Linked DNA regions of Homo sapiens. The protein of the gene in region 1 purifies or fractionates together with the protein of each later gene. This does not show direct contact. Each region holds a gene or a part of one and is shown on either strand. Other genes may lie near its edges. The genes, in order: ABCA1 and IGSF3.

Evidence for each region.
Region 2: the proteins of ABCA1 (region 1) and IGSF3 fractionate together in Homo sapiens (co-fractionation; one large-scale study listed by BioGRID). This does not show direct contact.

What each region holds. Positions count from the first base shown.
Region 1 is NC_000009.12:104,782,831-104,785,481, reverse strand, and holds part of ABCA1 (phospholipid-transporting ATPase ABCA1), read left to right. Parts: coding exon 1-86; intron 87-1,026; coding exon 1,027-1,167; 3' UTR 1,168-2,651. UniProt on the Homo sapiens protein: Catalyzes the translocation of specific phospholipids from the cytoplasmic to the extracellular/lumenal leaflet of membrane coupled to the hydrolysis of ATP.
Region 2 is NC_000001.11:116,657,727-116,661,552, forward strand, and holds part of IGSF3 (immunoglobulin superfamily member 3 isoform 2 precursor), read right to left. Parts: intron 1-3,826.

The DNA.
Region 1 (2,651 bases):
TGGCCAGGATATTCAGCATCCTCTCCCAGAGCAAAAAGCGACTCCACATAGAAGACTACTCTGTTTCTCAGACAACACTTGACCAAGTAAGCTTTGAGTGTCAAAACAGATTTACTTCTCAGGGTGTGGATTCCTGCCCCGACACTCCCGCCCATAGGTCCAAGAGCAGTTTGTATCTTGAATTGGTGCTTGAATTCCTGATCTACTATTCCTAGCTATGCTTTTTACTAAACCTCTCTGAACCTGAAAAGGGAGATGATGCCTATGTACTCTATAGGATTATTGTGAGAATTTACTGTAATAATAACCATAAAAACTACCATTTAGTGAGCACCTACCATGGGCCAGGCATTTTACTTGGTGCCTAATCCTATTTAAATTAGATAAAAAAGTACCAAATAGGTCCTGACACTTAAGAAGTACTCAGTAAATATTTTCTTCCCTCTTCCCTTTAATCAAGACCGTATGTGCCAAAGTAAATGGATGACTGAGCAGTTGGTGATGTAGGGGTGGGGGGCGATATAGAAAGTCAGTTTTTGGCCGGGCGTGGTGGCTCATGCCTGTAATCCCAGCACTTTGGGAGGCTGAGGAGCAGGCAGATCATGAGGTCAGGAGATCCAGATAATCCTGGCCAACAGGGTGAAACCCCGTCTCTACTAAAAATACAAAAATTAGCTGGGCATGGTGGTGCGCACTTGTAGTCCCAGCTACTTGCGAGGCTGAGGCAGGAGAATTGCTCGAACCCAGGAGGTGGAGGTTACAGTGAGCCAAGGTCTCGCCACTGCACTCCAGCCTGGGGACAGAGCAAGACCCCATTTCAAGGGGGGAAAAAAAGTCTATTTTTAAGTTGTTATTGCTTTTTTCAAGTATTCTTCCCTCCTTCACACACAGTTTTCTAGTTAATCCATTTATGTAATTCTGTATGCTCCTACTTGACCTAATTTCAACATCTGGAAAAATAGAACTAGAATAAAGAATGAGCAAGTTGAGTGGTATTTATAAAGGTCCATCTTAATCTTTTAACAGGTATTTGTGAACTTTGCCAAGGACCAAAGTGATGATGACCACTTAAAAGACCTCTCATTACACAAAAACCAGACAGTAGTGGACGTTGCAGTTCTCACATCTTTTCTACAGGATGAGAAAGTGAAAGAAAGCTATGTATGAAGAATCCTGTTCATACGGGGTGGCTGAAAGTAAAGAGGAACTAGACTTTCCTTTGCACCATGTGAAGTGTTGTGGAGAAAAGAGCCAGAAGTTGATGTGGGAAGAAGTAAACTGGATACTGTACTGATACTATTCAATGCAATGCAATTCAATGCAATGAAAACAAAATTCCATTACAGGGGCAGTGCCTTTGTAGCCTATGTCTTGTATGGCTCTCAAGTGAAAGACTTGAATTTAGTTTTTTACCTATACCTATGTGAAACTCTATTATGGAACCCAATGGACATATGGGTTTGAACTCACACTTTTTTTTTTTTTTTTGTTCCTGTGTATTCTCATTGGGGTTGCAACAATAATTCATCAAGTAATCATGGCCAGCGATTATTGATCAAAATCAAAAGGTAATGCACATCCTCATTCACTAAGCCATGCCATGCCCAGGAGACTGGTTTCCCGGTGACACATCCATTGCTGGCAATGAGTGTGCCAGAGTTATTAGTGCCAAGTTTTTCAGAAAGTTTGAAGCACCATGGTGTGTCATGCTCACTTTTGTGAAAGCTGCTCTGCTCAGAGTCTATCAACATTGAATATCAGTTGACAGAATGGTGCCATGCGTGGCTAACATCCTGCTTTGATTCCCTCTGATAAGCTGTTCTGGTGGCAGTAACATGCAACAAAAATGTGGGTGTCTCCAGGCACGGGAAACTTGGTTCCATTGTTATATTGTCCTATGCTTCGAGCCATGGGTCTACAGGGTCATCCTTATGAGACTCTTAAATATACTTAGATCCTGGTAAGAGGCAAAGAATCAACAGCCAAACTGCTGGGGCTGCAAGCTGCTGAAGCCAGGGCATGGGATTAAAGAGATTGTGCGTTCAAACCTAGGGAAGCCTGTGCCCATTTGTCCTGACTGTCTGCTAACATGGTACACTGCATCTCAAGATGTTTATCTGACACAAGTGTATTATTTCTGGCTTTTTGAATTAATCTAGAAAATGAAAAGATGGAGTTGTATTTTGACAAAAATGTTTGTACTTTTTAATGTTATTTGGAATTTTAAGTTCTATCAGTGACTTCTGAATCCTTAGAATGGCCTCTTTGTAGAACCCTGTGGTATAGAGGAGTATGGCCACTGCCCCACTATTTTTATTTTCTTATGTAAGTTTGCATATCAGTCATGACTAGTGCCTAGAAAGCAATGTGATGGTCAGGATCTCATGACATTATATTTGAGTTTCTTTCAGATCATTTAGGATACTCTTAATCTCACTTCATCAATCAAATATTTTTTGAGTGTATGCTGTAGCTGAAAGAGTATGTACGTACGTATAAGACTAGAGAGATATTAAGTCTCAGTACACTTCCTGTGCCATGTTATTCAGCTCACTGGTTTACAAATATAGGTTGTCTTGTGGTTGTAGGAGCCCACTGTAACAATACTGGGCAGCCTTTTTTTTTTTTTTTTTAATTGCAACAATGCAAAA
Region 2 (3,826 bases), on another chromosome or scaffold:
CGAGAGCAGAGACAGTGTTCTCAGAGTTGCTATCAAAAAGGAGGCCGCAGACTGCATTCTGAAGCATCAGACAATGGGTCACATGCAAAAACAGAATTAAATACACAAAAATAGCACCAACTTAAGGCAAGCCTGGGCAAACTGCACTACATCAAAGAAAGAACACACAACTGGTATCAGATTTTTTTTTCTGTTTTAATAAAGAGAAGGCCTGGACACCTGAAAGTTGACGGGAAGCAGGCATTACTCATTTCTCCGAGTTCACAGTTTTGTTAGAATGTCTTTGCTCTGATTATGGTTTTTTTTTTTTTGAAATGGAGTTTTTTGTTTTGTTTTGTTTTGTTTGCTTTTGTTGCCCTGGCTGGAGTGCAATGGTGCAATCTCGGCTCATCGCAAACTCCGCCTCCCAGGTTCAAGAGATTCTCCTGCCTCAGCCTCCCAAGTAGCCAGGATTACAGGCACCCGCTACCACATCTGGCTTTTTTGTGTTTTTAGTAGAGATGGGGTTTCACCATGTTGGTCAGGCTGGTCTTGAACTCTTGACCTCAAGCGATCCACCCGCCTCGGCCTCCCAAAGTGCTGGAATTACAGGCATGAGCCACCACGCCTGGCCTGATTATGTTTTGATGGATATACAGAAGCTCTTGCTTTGGTACAGAAACAGGCCCCCCTTTGCTTCGACCTCTGGGCCCCCCACCTTCAGAAATGTCTGGTGCCATTCCTGGCTCCTCCTCTCAGTGGTCTTCCAGGATATCCACTCACAGCTTTCTGATGTCGCCCACCTGTCTCTAGCCCAGATACCCAGTCCTCATGGCAACTGACTGCAGCAATTTTTACAAATCTACACCCTTAGGGTTCCCATCCCAGGACATTCAGGTTTCTCCACCCCTTTAGAAGTGCCCAGAATATCCTCTACCCCACAATTCCAACAGGACGTCACTCTCCTCTTACTTAAGAAAAATGCCTAAAATTCCAGCCCTTCCAAAAGGCCTTTCCAGATTGACCACTCAGGAGTTACTCTGGCCTCCCCTTCACTCCTCCTGCTAAACTGAAAACAAGGACAGACTTGCCTGGCCTCTCTCCCCCAGTAGACACCTACCCTCAGTGAACACATCCTGTCAGTGTCCTCCTGTCCATTTGCAAATTGATTGACTGTTTCATTGCTGGCCTTGGATGACCTCTCCTAGAGGGCAGGGACGGGTGGTGTTCGGCAAAGCCTTGGTCGTCTGGATAATGGGAAATGGGGTCTTCTGGTGAATTTAATTACAGGGTTAGGTGGAAACTTTGCTTCAACTCTCGTTATTAGAAAGCCTATTGTAAAGCTTTTTAAAATACAACTGACCACTTTCCAGGCAGGGTAGAGTTAATATGCCTTAATCTTTGATTTAGGATCTTGCAGTGCCCCAGGCTCACCATTCTCTTCTGCTACTATAATTATAGATGCGGAAGACATACAGACTGGGCTGACGACTGCTTGGAAGCTAATTTCTAGAATAAACCCTTGCTACCACATCTTGTGATTTTTGCCCTTCTGAAGGTGGAGTTCAAAAATAAAAACAAAATCCCACTTAACTGAGGGTTCCAGTTGAGGGAGGTCTGCTGCCATGGTCTTTGTTAAGTGCCTGCCACCATGGCCCACAATTAGTCAGTTAATAAAGGGTTCTTGATGAGAGAATTTGGCAACATGTGATTTTCCACAAATATAAGCTTGATTTTGATGCAACCACTCATTTCTTTGAAAATCAGGGGGCATTCACACACAGGTGTTCTAGATTTCCTTAAAGTAAAAACCAACCCTTTACAAGGAATAGCTGTGTTCACTTTGAAGCAGTAAAGAAGCAGGTGTCCACTCATGGCAAATGAGGAACTCCCTTTTTTTTTTTGAGACGGGGTCTCGCTCTTTTTGTGTGTGTGTGAGATGGGGGCCACCCAGGCTAGAGTGCAGTAGTGCAATTACAGCTCACTGTAGCCTCAACCTTCTGGGCTCAACCAATTCTTCCCACCTCAACTTCTGAAGCAGCTGAGACTACAGGTGTGTACCACCATGCCCAGCTAATGTTTTTGATTTTTAGTAAGATGAGGTCTTGTTATATTGCCCAGGCTGGTTGGTCTCAAACTCCTGAGCTCAAGTGATCCTCCTGCCTCAGCCTCCCAAAGTGCTAGGATTATCGGCATGAGCCACCATGCCCGGCCAGAAGCTAAAAATATTAATCAAGGAGTCATAACTAAGGATGCACTGCACACCCAAAGCCAGGGACCACGAGAGGTCAGCAACTGGGACTGCTTCCTCCAGTTCCCAGGCTGGGGCTCAGCAGCAGTGGCCTGGGCTCTGGGGACTTACTTTAAGCCTAAATCCCAAACTCATTATAATTCAAACCAATTTTCTGTGTCCAGCATCATCCCACCTGAACTGGTCCTTAAAACCACTGACAGTCATTTCTCCAATCTGTAAAAGGCCTGCTGAGGCCTTTGCATTATCAGGACTTAATTGGGAGTAGAATGCCCTCCCCATCAAATCCTGACCATTTCTGAACACTCAGCCCATGTCCTCTTCCTGAGTGTCTTCCCCAGCAACAACCACCTACACTGAACTTTACTTCGATCTCTGCAGGAAACTGTAGATAGAGATGCGGTCTCACTATGTTGCCTAGCTGGTCTTGAACTGCTGAGCTCAAGTGATCTCCCTGCTTCTGCCTCCCAAAGTGCTAGGATTACAGCAGTGAGCCACCACACCTGGCCTATGTATGCTTTTCTTTTTTTTTTTTTTTTTTTTTTTGAGACAGAGTCTTGCTCTGTGGCCCAGTCTGCAGTGCAGTGGCGCAATCTCAGCTCATGGCAACCTCCAGGTTCAAGGGATTTTCCTGCCTCAGCCTTCCGAGGTGCTGGGATTACAGGCACACACCATCACGCCCAGCTAATTGGCCAGGCTGGTCTCAAACTCCTGACCTCAGGTGATCCACCCACCTTGGCCTCCCAAAGTGCTGGGATTACAGGCGTAAGCCACCATACCCGGCCACGTATGCATTTTAAAATGTTATGCTCAGATGGGGTCTATAGGCTTCACCAGACTGCCAAAAGGATCCATAACACAAAAAAGGTTAAGAAGCTCTATAATCAGACAAATGTGAATTCAAATTCAGATTCTGCCAAATTCCAGCTCTTTTCCTTTGAACATAATTGTTTTCAAGGGAAAAGTGTCATGAATTTCCTTATCTTGATCAAGGAAGCCAACACAGAAACAACACCTACCTTGTGAAACCATTCACTCATCAAAAAATTAACTGGGCCAGGTGTGGTAGCTCACGCCTGTAATTTCAGCATTTTGGGAGGCCAAGGCAGGCGGATCACGAGGTCAGGAGTTTGAGACCAGTGTGGCCAACATAGTGAAGGCCCATCTCTACTAAAAATACAAAAAAATTAGCCGGGTGTGGTGGTGTGTGCCTGTAATCCCAGCTACTCGGGAGGCTGAGGCAGGAGAATCGCGTGAACCCAGCAGGCGGAGGTTACGGTGAGCCAAGATCGTGCCACTGCACTCCAGCCTGAGCAACAGTGTGAGACTCCATCTCAAAAAAAATAAAATAACTGAACACCTGCTTACTTTGCATGGCACAAGGCTGAGTTCTGGGACTACAGTAATGAACATGACAGATGGTCTTCAAGAATTTTATACAGAAGGTCATGCTATGTAAAGTGTTTAGCACAGTGACTGGCACATAAGCACTCTATAAACACTTTAATACTCACTGATAAAACCACAAAATGTAGTGTTTAATTATATGCTGATTTAGGTTGCTTCCTATGAAACAAACGTTGGTTCATCTAACTC